3 linked regions of the Homo sapiens genome follow. The protein of the gene in region 2 purifies or fractionates together with the protein of the main gene of each other region. This does not show direct contact. Each region holds a gene or a part of one and is shown on either strand. Other genes may lie near its edges.

Region 1 (3,765 bases), on a different chromosome or scaffold from region 2:
TTGAGCCACTGTGCCTGGCCCATTTCCCCTTTTCTACATGGAGAAGGACAGAATTGGGCACTGTTCAGTTTCCATCATGGCCTCTCTTGATGTATCTTGTTAAGCTTCTGCCTTCCCTCCTGCCTGCCTCGGTCTGTGGTTTTTCAGCTCCAGAGAGAGGGTTGATTGGCCTGGCCGACCTTTCCGAGGGATGGGTTCAGCCAGCTTTGGGTCAGCTGTGGTGGGTGTGGTGTTAGCTATGGTTCCTCTAGCCTCACGGTGGCACTGTGGGCTGAGACTTCCTTCTAAGAGGCAGTGAAGGCAGGTAGCCTCAATAAAACCTGTCTGTTCTGAGATAGAAGTAGAAACACAGAAGTGCTCCAGTTGCAGTAAAAATATCCAGGTTATTTGGGGACCAAACACCCTTTCCTCAGACTAAAAGAGGGATTGTCAACCCAGATGGCTAGAGAGTAGGGGGATCTGAATGAGCGAGGGCTGTTGGTGCCAACTTAGAGAGTCTGTGTCTTGCCCGTCAGGCTGCTACTGCCCAGCCTGGGTTGACGTCATCAGGGCAAACTCAGGCTTGGTGCTTATAGGTCTTCTGTTTTAGTAAGTAGTCGATCCAGATTTTTAAGTGACACCACACGCATTTTAAATGTTGGCAGCAAATACAGATTGGCAAAAAGCACTGAGGTGTATAAAGCAGTTTTGCTGCCTGGTGATCCGTGGACTGTTTGTTTGCACTGTTTGCATTCTCTGGTCTAAAGTATCTTTTGGCTTCTTCTTTTTTTTTTTTGGATGGTTTATTTCAGATCTCTTAAGGGCAGTCCCAAGATCCAGAGCAGAGATGTATGATGACGTCCACAGCGATGGCAGATACTCCCTCAGTGGATCTGTAGCTCACTCTAGAGATGCCGGAAGAGAAGGCCTGAGAAGTGACGTATTTCCAGGGCCTTCCTTCAGATCAAGCAACCCTTCCATCAGTGATGACAGCTACTTTCGCAAAGAATGTGGCCGGGATCTGGAATTTTCTCACTCTGATTCTCGGGACCAGGTCATTGGCCACCGGAAATTGGGGCATTTCCGTTCTCAGGACTGGAAATTTGCGCTCCGTGGTTCTTGGGAACAAGACTTTGGCCATCCAGTTTCTCAAGAGTCCTCTTGGTCACAGGAGTATAGTTTTGGTCCCTCTGCAGTTTTGGGGGACTTTGGATCTTCCAGGCTGATTGAGAAAGAGTGTTTGGAGAAGGAGAGTCGGGATTATGACGTGGACCATCCTGGGGAGGCTGACTCTGTGCTTAGGGGCGGCAGTCAAGTCCAGGCCAGAGGTCGAGCTCTAAACATCGTTGACCAGGAAGGTTCCCTCCTAGGAAAGGGGGAGACTCAGGGCCTGCTCACAGCTAAGGGGGGTGTTGGGAAACTTGTCACATTGAGAAATGTGAGCACAAAAAAAATACCCACCGTGAATCGTATTACTCCCAAAACTCAGGGCACTAACCAAATCCAGAAAAACACTCCAAGTCCTGATGTGACCCTGGGGACAAACCCAGGGACAGAAGATATCCAGTTCCCCATTCAGAAGATCCCTCTGGGGCTGGATCTGAAGAATCTTCGGCTCCCCAGAAGAAAGATGAGCTTTGACATCATAGATAAGTCTGATGTTTTTTCAAGATTTGGGATAGAAATAATCAAATGGGCAGGATTCCACACCATAAAAGATGATATTAAATTTTCCCAACTTTTCCAGACTCTCTTTGAACTTGAAACAGAAACCTGTGCTAAAATGCTTGCCTCATTCAAATGTTCCTTAAAACCAGAGCACAGAGATTTTTGCTTTTTTACTATCAAATTTTTAAAGCACTCTGCTTTGAAAACACCCAGAGTTGATAATGAGTTTTTAAACATGCTTTTAGACAAAGGTGCTGTGAAGACCAAAAATTGCTTTTTTGAAATCATAAAGCCTTTTGACAAGTACATAATGAGACTTCAAGACCGGCTTCTGAAGAGTGTCACACCTTTGCTTATGGCCTGCAATGCCTACGAGCTAAGTGTCAAGATGAAGACCCTCAGTAACCCCCTGGACTTGGCTCTTGCCCTAGAAACCACCAACTCTCTCTGCCGGAAGTCTTTGGCCCTTTTGGGACAGACATTTTCCTTGGCCTCTTCTTTCCGGCAGGAGAAAATCTTAGAAGCTGTCGGCCTGCAAGATATAGCTCCCTCACCTGCTGCGTTTCCAAACTTCGAAGACTCCACTTTGTTTGGGCGAGAGTACATAGACCACCTGAAGGCCTGGCTAGTCAGCAGCGGATGTCCCCTCCAGGTTAAGAAAGCCGAACCAGAGCCGATGCGAGAGGAGGAGAAAATGATTCCTCCTACGAAACCTGAAATTCAGGCCAAGGCTCCAAGTAGTCTGAGTGATGGTAAGGAAATCAGCCAAAGTTTCTATTTGTTGTTTTTCGTGTTTCTTTGGTAATGTCTTTTATTCGAGATTTTTTTACACAGAAGTTCTTTAGCCAATTGGAAACATATCAGGATTTTAGTAGAAAACGCACATTGGCCAATATATGTCTGCCATTCATTCTGTGAATGTGTATTAGGAATCTGCTGTTTACCATAGAAGTCTTTAGACAGCCGGGTGTGGTGGCACATGCCTGTAATCCCAGCACTTTGGGAGGCTGAGGCGGCAGATCACTTAAGACCAAGAGTTTGAGACCAGCCTGGCCAACATGGTGAAACCCCATCTCTACTAAAAATACAAAAACTAGCCGGGTGTGGTGGCACGCACCTGAAATCCCAGCTACTCGGGAGGCTGAGTTAGGAGAATCCACTTGGACCTGGGAGGCGGAGGTTTCAGTGAGCTGAGATCACCCCACTGCACTCCAACCTGGGTGACAGAGCAAGACTCTGTCTCAGAAAAATAAAAATTTTTAGACATTTTTAGGTCAAATACCTCTCTGGGAATTTGGTAGAAAGCTGTGGCCATTGCCAGAAAAAATGCTCATCTATTCACGCACAATTTTACCTATATCATCCGGGGGATTCGTACCTTTCTGCAGCCAAGGTTAAGAACGCTTGTTCCTTTTTTTTTCTTTTTAACCTTTGAAAAAAAGAAGGGTTGACTTTCTTTCCTTGTTTTTGTTTTTTTGAGACAGGGTCGTGCTCTGTCACCCAGGCTGGAGTGCAGTGGCATGACCATGGCTCACTGCAGCCCCGACCTCCTAGGCTCAAGTGATCCTTCCGCCTCAGCCTCCTGAGTAGCTGGGACTATAGGCATGTACCACCATGCCTGGCTAACTTTTTTTGTATTTTTTTGTAGAGAATCATGTTGCCCAGACTGGTCTCGAACTCCTGAGCTCAAGTGATCTACCTGCCTCAGCCTCCCAAAGTGCTGGGATTATAGGTGTGAGTCACTGCACCTGGCCTGGAACCCTTGTTCCAACATGTCCCCACAAGGTATTACTAGAAGGGAGAAAAGACACAGAGCACTGTCTCTGAGGAATCCCCAGGCTCCTGAGGGAAGAAAATCACAAAGACCAGTCACTTGTGAGCCAGGGGTGGTAGCATATGTCTGAAATCCCAGCTACTTGGGAGGCTGAGGAGGGAGGATTGCTTGAGGCCAGGAGTTCAAGGCTGCAGTGACCTATGATTGCATCTGTGAATAGCCACCGCACTCCAGCCTGGGCTAGAATCACCCTGTCTCTCAATAAACCAAAACAAAAAAACAGTCACCCCTGTGCTAGAATTAAAGCGACACAGGAGAGGCTCCAGTCTAGCCTGGAAAGTTGG
Region 2 (5,130 bases):
GTAGGTTAGAAGACTTAATATTGCTAAAATGACAATATTCCCCAAATTGATCTACAGATTTAGCATAATCCCTATCAGAATTCAGCTGACTTCTTTTGCAGAAATTGACAAGCTGGTTCTAAAATTCATATGGAAAGTCAAGGGATTCAGAATAGCCAAAGCAATCTTGAAAAAGAAAAACAAAGTGGGAGGGCTCACACTTCCTGATTTCAAAACTTACTACGAAGCTACAGTAATCAAACTGGTTTGGTACAGGCACAAACACAGACATATAGGTCAGTGAAATAGAATAGAGAGTCTGAAAGAAACCCATATATCTATGGTCAATTTAGTTTTGACAAGGGTGCCAAGTCCATTCAATGGGAAAACAATTGTCTTTTTGACAAATTATGCCAGAACAACTCGACATCCACATGTAAAAGAATGAATTTGAACCTAGCCTCACTCCATACACAAAACTTAAAATGGATCAAAGATCTAAATGTAAGAGCTAAAGCTATAAAACTCTTAGAATTTTAAATCGGCCAGGTATGGTGGTTCACACCTGTAATCCCAGCACTTTGGGAAGCTGAGGTGGGAGAATCACTTGAGCCCAGGAGTTTGAGACCAGCCCAATCAACATAGTGAGACCCCATATCTTAATAAATACATACTTTAAAAAATAAAAGAACAAAAAAATGAAAAAAATAAATAGCCAGGCATGGTGGTGTGTGCCTGTAGTCCCAGCTACTCAGGAGGCTGAGGTGGGAGGATCACCTGAGTCCAGGAAGGTCAAGCCTGCAGTGAGCCAAAGTTGCACCACTGCACTCCAGCCTGGACAACAGAGTGACACCCTATCTCCAAAAAAGAAAAAGAGAGAAAGAAAATCATTTTCTCTTAGTGTTCAAATTTGTCACCATCAATATTTCCTTGTATTTATTTAAATTTCCCTGTGGCTATTTCACCTTTTTCATTCCACTTCATTCTCTTGATTACCCAGGTTGGTAAACTGTGTATCTTTAAAACTGGTCTTGTCAGAATACTGCCTTTTAAATTTATTTTCCACTACCCATCTTTGTTTTCTATGCATTAATTTAAGTTTTGATCTTTATTTGACTGCTTTCCAGATTCATCTGGTGTATCTTTTTCTAGTTTCCTAAGGCTTTGTGAGGCACCGAGTCAAGGGAAGAGAGGAAGTGCTAAATCTCACCAGACGCTAGAGAGTGATATGGGGATGCACCGTCATGGTCCTCCCTGCTTTGCCATGCTGATGATAATGAGAAGGGACTGTGGATGGACTTCACATGAGGAGAGCCCTGCTATGGAATGGCACTCAAGTGCTCTATTTTTCCACCCTCAGCTCTGACACATCTCTGACAGGAGGCAAGCAGACACATGGTACTGAGGAGAGAGGCCATTTCTCTTACTGTCTCCTGTCTCTGAAGAGAATGAGGAAGTAAAAGCTGAAGAACAACAGGAATGAAGTCAGTGGCAAGACCAACTGGTGCCACTGACCAGACCTGAGATTGAAAGATTAACCCTCCCCACCCCCAACTCTAACCACATGTGCTCTCAATCTATCACAACACTTTCACATGGACCCCTTAGAGTTGAAAGCCCTAAAAAGGGCCAGGTTTCACATGGACCCCTTAGAGTTGAAAGCCCTTTAAAGGGCCAGGAACTCTTTCTTTAGGGAGCTCGGTTCTTGAGATGCAAGTCGGCCAATGCTCCCGGGGGAATAAAGCCTCTTCCTTCTTTAACCCAGTGTCTGAGGGGTTTTGTCTGCAGCTCATCCTGCTACAGTACAAGTTCCCCTGGAGTTTGTTTCTGACAGAGACACATCTCTGTGGCAGATGTCCCAATCCCTATGTCATAATGCAATTGTGAATTCAGAGCTCTCTCCTCACTCACGTTACTCATGCCAGACCTTGGGAAGCAGAGAAATCAGGGCTAATGAACCATCTAAGGACAGGCCATGAGGGTTCGATTTTGTGTAAGAGACATGGCCAGATCTATTAGGTGGACCAGGAATGGGTGGGTATCTCCCTGGGCTTTACAGGACTTGAGAAAAGAGAGGATGTTAAAGTAGTAATTGTCTTTGTATAGAGCCATAGAGAGAAACAGTCTTAACTCATTTATGTACTTCCCATTTAATTCTGATGACAGACCAAAGGCAATTTAATTTTGGTTATAATTGAGGATGTTGAAGAAAGCATTGAATGGAAGACATTGCAGAAGAAGAAACAGCAGAAAATCAAGGTGAGAAGAATTCCATGTACTTAAGAGAAATCCAGAACATTTATAACTACATCATAAGGTGTAGGACTTTGCCTCTTATCAATCCAGGGTCTAATTAGGAGTCAACTCAATGTTGGCTCATTTTTCCTCCATTCTCTTCTCAGTCTGGGCTGTCTGGATCTGGGCCTGACTGAGATATTGAGAGTGATTGGAAAGAATGAAAGCCTTGGGAGGCCGAGACAGGCAGATCATGAGGTCAGGAGATTGAGACCATCCTGGCTAACACGGTGAAACCCCATCTCTACTAAAAATACAAAAAATTAGCCGGGTGTGGTGGTGAGTGCCTGTAGTCCCAGCTATGCTACTCAGGAGGCTGAGGCAGGAGAATGGGTGAACCCGAGAAGCGGAGCTTGCAGTGAGCCAAGATCACGCCACTGCACTCCAGCCTGGGCAACAGAGCGAGACTCCTTCTCAAAAAAAAAAAAAAAAAAAAGAATGAAAGCCATCAAGAAATGCATAAGGCTGAGAGGTGAGAATGTGAGAACTTGGAATTAGAGAGTAGACTGTTCAAAATATGGAAAGACTTGGAGTAGAATATGTGGTCAGGGTATTGAAAACCTACCATAGTATCAAAATATGGTCATAGCAGACAGAAATCAGCCAGTGGTGGTTTGGGGCTGGAATTAGCAGATAATTACCAGGCAGAAGGTTATGAGGCCTTTCCAAACCCAGTGAGCACCAAAGAGGTGAGTGTGACTAACAAGGTCCCACACATCCCTATTGCACCCTTCTAGTTACTAATGGTTTTTCCCTTGATCCATGCACTGCAGAAATAGTCTGCAGAAGAACTCTGTGACTCTAAGATTGAAGTGATGTGCCCACAGTGGCAGAGGAAGGTCACCACCAGGTCTGATGGCTCCTAGTCAGTGTCCTGCTAACTTCCCTGAATTCTGAGGAAGGGCTGTGTTTTGAGAGAGAAAATCCAGGCTCCTTCCAGGAAGATCCTAGAAGTTGGTGGCAGGAAGTTTTCTGACTGATCGCTCTTGTCTCTGCCTAGGAAAAACTTAGAATAAGAACAAAAGCAGCTGTAAAGATCCAGGCCTGGTGGCGGGGCACCCTGGTGCGCAGGACACTGCTGCATGCAGCCCTCAGGGCCTGGATAATTCAGTGCTGGTGGCGGATGACGCTGTCGAGGGTGCTGGAGAAGAAACGGCAGGCAGCTCTGATCGCCTACGCAACCAGAGAGAGGGCAGTGATCAAGCTCCAGTCTTTGGTCCGTATGTGGCGTGTCCGCTGGCGATACTGCCAGGTGCTCAATGCCATCTACATCATCCAGGGCCACTGGCAATGCCACAACTGCCAGACCTGCGCTCTCCTCCAGGGCCACTGTGTGGTCACAGCCACTCACCTGCAGTTCCACATTGAGATCATCAACTCCTAAGGGCTGGCAAGAAGGGCACTGTGTCTACTGTCCCTATTAAAGGTCTAACCTGGTCTGGTGTGTCTCATGGGCTCCCCCAGCTAATGGGATTCTTGAGACTTGGACCTTGCTGCCTCCTCTTCTCCCTGAGAAAGAATTTCAGTGAGGTTTGCCCCCTGTGTCCAAGGACCCTGTTTTGGACTGACAATGGCCATAGGAAGCCCCAGTCTGCTCTGATATATGACAGAGCCAGAAATCCCAGTTCCCATCCCCAGCCTTATTTTCTTCTCACCGGGGGATCTGGGAGGCAGTTGGGCTCCATCTTCCTGAAGATTCTGGGCACCTCTGCACATATGGATGGACTATTGGGCCCTGCTCTGTCAACCTAGAATCAAGGTCGGCTGGGGTTTGGGATGCCTCAGTTTCCTCTTTGGCAAGCACCTAGATGGAAAGGCAATATTTGGCTGATTCTCCTGGGAGCAATGTAGTGCAGCCCCAGGTGAAGGATAAGAGGCTGGCCTTACTGGTAGGTGGGGCTGGGGCTAGGCATGCTAATGATTAGGTGGTGACCCTAAGGACTAGTGGAAAACAGAAGTTTACAGAAGTTCATCTTTTCTCTACAATTTCCTCACTAGAACTCGTCTCCCCAAGGGCCAGGTGACAAACAGGGCTCCCTCTGATATTACCCCCACCCCTACTCTTATCTCAATTATTGGTGATTTTATCATTGGTCAAGATGACCCTACAATCTCCTCCATTCTAACCTCAAACCTTTTCTGCTCTTCTCCTCAGCTATTCACTCCCACAGTCATACCAAAACAATGCTATTCTATGGAACTTCTGTGATGATGGAAATCTCTCTCTATGCTGTCCAACATAGTAGCCACTAGCCACATATAGTTGTGGTGCACCTGAAATGTGCCTAGTGCAACTGAGGAGTTGAATTTTTTATTTTATTTAAATTTAAATAATCATTGGACAATGATGCTCTAGACCTCATCATCACCAATAATTGTACTATTGCTCAAATTGCTTTTTCTAATTTTCCATTCTTTGATTACTTTCTTCTTTCAGTTCACCTTTTCAATAACCCCAATATTTCTTCAGATATGATAAGGTCTTCCAGTTTATTGATGCTATCATTTTTTTACAGCCACCACCCCTGACATGCTCTTGCATGTTTCTTTACCTAGTGCAGATTCCATGGTTAATTATCATCTCTCCCCTGCACTACCTCACTTCCTTGGCCCACTTTCTTTCTGCAAACATGTATGAGATGAAGGCAACCGTCTCCCTGTTCCATGCCTACAGAATAAGGGAACATGGCTGGGACAAAACCAACAACCATGAGGCATGGTCTTCATTTATATTCATGACCACATATATCAACTGGACTAATTTCCCAATGAATTTATTTAGTATGTTTGCATTTATATTTTCCGAGTTGAATAATTTACACCACCTCCTCTCCAAATGTTTGTTATTTCGGTTGG
Region 3 (4,408 bases), on a different chromosome or scaffold from region 2:
AATATTGCTTTGAGACGGAGTTTTGATTTTGTTGCCCAGGCTGGAGTGCAGTGGCTCAATCTCGGCTCACTGCAACCTTCACCTCCTGGGTTCAAGCGATTCTCCTGTCTCAGCCTCCCAAGTAGCTGGGATCATAGGCGCCTGCCACCACGGCCAGCTAATTTTTGTATTTTTAGTAGAAACGGTGTTTCACCATGTTGGCCAGGCTGGTCTTGAACTCCTGACCTCAGGTGATCCACCAGCCTCTGCCTCCCAAAGTGTTGGCATTACAGGCGTGAGCCACCGCGCCCAGCCTGTTAGATGCTTTTCTTGCTTAGTACTATCTCATTAACATTTTGCAATTATATTATATTATATTATATTATATTATATTATATTATATTATATTATTTTTGAGACGGGGTCTTTCTCTGTCCCCCAGGCTGGAGTGCGGTAGCATGATCAGGGCTCACTCCAGCCCTGCCTCCTGGGCTCGAGGGATCCTTCCACCTCAGCCTCCCAAGGAGGTGGAACTACAGGTGCGTGCCACCACGCCTGGCTAATTTTTGTATTTTTTTTGTAGAGATATGGTTTCATTATATTGCCCAGGCTGGTCTCTAATTCCTGAGCTCAAGAGATCCACCCGCCTTGGCCTCCATATTTTGCAATTATAATCTGCAATGGAATCATAATTTTAAATTGCTGTATTGTTTGTAATATGTGCTTGGTTATACTTATATAATTATAAGTTGGTTTGTAATATGTGCTTGGTTATACTTATATAATTATTCTCTCCTTTATTATACATGAGGTAAGAGAAGCTCAGGGAATCCATTCAGGCAGCAAGTGGAGAAACTAGCTCTCAAACCTGCATCTCAGGCTCTCATTCTTCCACTGCAAAAAAGCAAAGTGCTCAAAAAATATGGTCACAGATCTGCAGAAGTCTTGCACAAGGGCATTATCATAGCAATAAGAATGACTAATAAGTATTAACGGCCCATGAGAAAAGAACAAATACCATTAATTATCTCAATATATTAAGCATATTAGTAATGTTTGTACAGAATTATTCATGCAAATATTATTAGCCTGTGTCGGGGACAGTTGCTAAACTCAGCAACAGGCTCACAGCTCAGCTTCGTGCCTCTGGTTCCAGATGTGCAGGGGCCAGGGCTTCCAGGGACACGCCCCCGTGGGCCTCCAGGGAGCCAATCGACGCGCAGAAGGCGGGGCCCTGGGAGCGACAACGGTGTTATCCAATGGGCCGACAGCTGGAGCCGCCCCTGGCCAATGGGCGCGCTCCTCCGCGATGGGCGGAAGTGGTGAGGCAGCTCTGAGGGCCGTTGTTCAGTGCGGGGTCTGACAGAGGAGGCTCCGTGTCTGCAGCTAGTGTGTCAACTCAGCGTTTCTCCTCTCGTCCCTGGTGAGGTGTAGCGGCGGCACGCGGCTGGAGATCCCCTGTGGCCTCCAGTTTAGGAAGGGTCCAGCATCCCAAGGGAGGGGTGTGTGGGCGAGGGGTCTCTGGGCCCGGGGTCGCGGCTGTGAGGAGAGGATGCCCGCGCGGCGGCATCTCAGGCACCTGGAGGAGGCCGCGCTTTCTCCTCAGGGAACCGGCGCCTTGGCAGCCCCCGGCGACGCCGCCCCCTTCGCGGCCTAGGTTGGTCTGGTGAGCCGGGAAGCGGGCGTCGTTCGCAGCGCCGCTGTGACCACCGCGTCCCGGGCGGAGCTGGGCTCAGTGCCGGCCTGGGCCTAGAGTCCGAGCCTCGAGCTGCCGGCGTGGGGGGTCGCGAGTGGCCTAATGCGGCCTCGAAGCCGAAGGACCCGAGTCCGAGCTCGCACTCCGACCCGCTGGTGCTGTGGAAAACTCAGGTGGCCTTCCGCTTTCGTAGCCTCTAAAGTGGGGACCAAGACTTTCACCTCTTAGGATTGTAGTCGGGATTAAAAGATTTTCCCGGTAAGCGTTTGGCAACTGCTATTATTTGAGAAGCCGCTTACTTCTTCACTCCCCATCACCGACCTTCCTGGGGACGGGGGCGATTGGAAACTGCCTTGGGGTATCTGGACCCGGCAGGGGAAGCTCCGCCGCCTCGGGCAGAGGGACGGTCCCCTCTGCGGACTAGAGAGATCTAGCTGACCCCCAACAGGCTCCTTATAAGCTTGAAGACTTTTCTGTGCCTCAACTCTTCCGTGCATTCGCCCGTTTCCTTGACCCTTTGAAGTATTGTCAGTCCTCTGCCTGAAGAATCTGAGGCCCAGAGAGGTTAAATCTGGCAGAACCAGCCAGACCTTGACCCCCAGAGGGGGACCCTGCAGGCTACCCCCAGTCTCCTTGCATCTAGAAAAGCAAGCACCTGCTACATCTGAGCTCTGGCCTTAGAGTTGGCCAGAGTGGGCTGGAATAGAGCACACCTGAAATCAGTCGGACAGCCTTCCTTAGTTGCCATTTCATATCAGAGTGAATATCTTTTTTTTTTTTTGAGATGGAGTCACCTTCTGTTGTTCAGGTTGGAGTGCAGTGGCGAGATCTCAGCTCACTGCAGCCTCCGCCTCCTGGGTTTAAGTGATTCTCTTGCCTCAGCCTCCTGAGTAGCTGGGATACAAGCGCCCGTCACCACGCCCAACTAATTTTTGTATTTTTAGTAGAGACTTGGTTTTGCCATGTTGGCCAGGCTGGTCTCGAACCCCAGACCTCCAGTGATCTGCCCACCTCGCCCTCCCAAAGTGCTGGGATTACAGGCGTGAGCTGCTGCGCCCAGCCCAGAATGGGTGTCTTGAATTATGTCATTCCCTAGTTTAAAGCCCTTCAGTGGTTTACCATTGAGCTTGGAATCGAATCCAATATTCTTTCTGTCTGATATGACAAGACCTTCTTGAGTCATTCCCCTTTTTTATTATGCTCTTCCAGATCTGCCTTTACTTTCTCTTTCATTGCTTTTAGGCCTTTTGCCCTTCCCACTGCCTGGATGGATTTCCCCGCATTCCCATCCTCTATCTTTGTCTTTTCGTGGTTGGCTCTTGTACTTCAGTTCTTAATTTAAATGTCGTCTCCCCAGAAAGTTCTTCCCTGACCACTCTTATCTACCTAAAGTAGATTTGCCTCTATTCCGCCCCCATTTATTTGTCAGTATACTTTTCCATCACAATACTCAAGTTATATGTATTTTTTTGCTTATTGTTTTTCTCTACCACTAAATCGCTTTATCAGAGACTATATTTCCTTATTTTGTAAAGTATTTTTAGTGCCAGGGCACAGTGGCACACAGTATGGTCTTCTTTTTCTTTGAGACAGGGTCTCACTCTGTCACCCCGGCTGGAGTGCAGTGGTGTGATCACAACTCACTCACTGTAGCCTCGACCTCCTGGGCTCAAGCCTCCCAAGTAGCTGGGACTACCTCAGCCTCCCACCCCAGCCTCCCAAGTAGCTGAGATTACAGGCATGTGCCACCATACCCACCTAATTTTTTGCTTTTTTGTTTTTTGTTTTTTTTGAGAGGGAGTCTCGCTCTGTCGCCCAGGCTGGAGTGCAGTGGCGTGATCTCGGCTCACTGCAAGCTCTTTTTAGTAGAGACTGGGTTTCACCATGTTAGGCAGGATGGTCTCGATCTCCTGACCTTGTGATCCACCTGTCTCGGCCTCCCAAAGTGCTGGGATTACAGGCATGAACCACCGCACCCGGCTGCTTATTTTTTATAAAGGCAGGGTCTTACTATGTTTCCTGGCTGGCCTTGAACTCCTGAGCTCAAGTGATCCACCCACCCCAGCCTTCCAGAGTGCTGGGATTACAGGTGTGAGACACTGCACCTGGCCCACAGTATTGTCCTTTTTTTTTTTATTTTTATTTTTTGAGACAGAGGCTCACTCTGTTGCCCAGGCTGGGGTGCAGTGGTGTGATCCTGGCTTACTGCAACCTCCACCTCCCGGGTTCAAGCAATTCTGCTTCAGCCTCCCTAGTAGCTGGGACTACAGGCACCCGGCTAATTTTTTTATTTTTAGTAGAGAGGTGTTTCGCCATGCTGGCCAGGCTGGTCTTGAACTCCTGACCTCAAGTGATCCGCCCACCTCAGCCTCCCAAAGTGCTGGGATTACAGGCATGAGCCACTGGACCCAGCCTCAAAGTATTGTCTTAATTAAGCATGTTGAACAAATGACTAAATACATGTTTTGAAAAGTGGCAACTCGCTTGATAATGCCAAAACCTTTAAAGAACCCTACTGGGGGCAGGATTTAAGACCATTTTTGTATCATGGAAAGGAATAATCTAAACTAAACAATGGTAGTAAAGTTGCCAGTGCTTTGCTTTCTGCATTGACATCTTGTTTAAAAAGCAGGAGAAACTTTATAGTGAAGAAATTTGGCAGACACCATATCAACTATGTGATCATGGTTTACATCAATAGTAAAATAAGACTGTTGACATCATGTACCTTCT

What was found. The genes of interacting proteins can lie anywhere in the genome.
Region 1: the proteins of IQCF2 (region 2) and SUGP2 purify together in Homo sapiens (affinity purification with mass spectrometry; one large-scale study listed by BioGRID and IntAct). This does not show direct contact.
Region 3: the proteins of IQCF2 (region 2) and TRAFD1 purify together in Homo sapiens (affinity purification with mass spectrometry; one large-scale study listed by BioGRID and IntAct). This does not show direct contact.

Annotation. Positions count from the first base shown.
Region 1 is NC_000019.10:19,023,253-19,027,017, reverse strand, and holds part of SUGP2 (SURP and G-patch domain-containing protein 2), read left to right. Parts: intron 1-791; coding exon 792-2,399; intron 2,400-3,765. UniProt on the Homo sapiens protein: May play a role in mRNA splicing.
Region 2 is NC_000003.12:51,859,713-51,864,842, forward strand, and holds IQCF2 (IQ domain-containing protein F2), read left to right. Parts: upstream 1-1,902; 5' UTR 1,903-1,954; coding exon 1,955-1,972; intron 1,973-2,145; coding exon 2,146-2,238; intron 2,239-3,274; coding exon 3,275-3,658; 3' UTR 3,659-3,712; downstream 3,713-5,130.
Region 3 is NC_000012.12:112,124,217-112,128,624, forward strand, and holds the start of TRAFD1 (TRAF-type zinc finger domain-containing protein 1), read left to right. Parts: upstream 1-1,343; 5' UTR 1,344-1,402; exon of another isoform or gene 1,403-1,933; intron 1,934-4,408. UniProt on the Homo sapiens protein: Negative feedback regulator that controls excessive innate immune responses. Regulates both Toll-like receptor 4 (TLR4) and DDX58/RIG1-like helicases (RLH) pathways.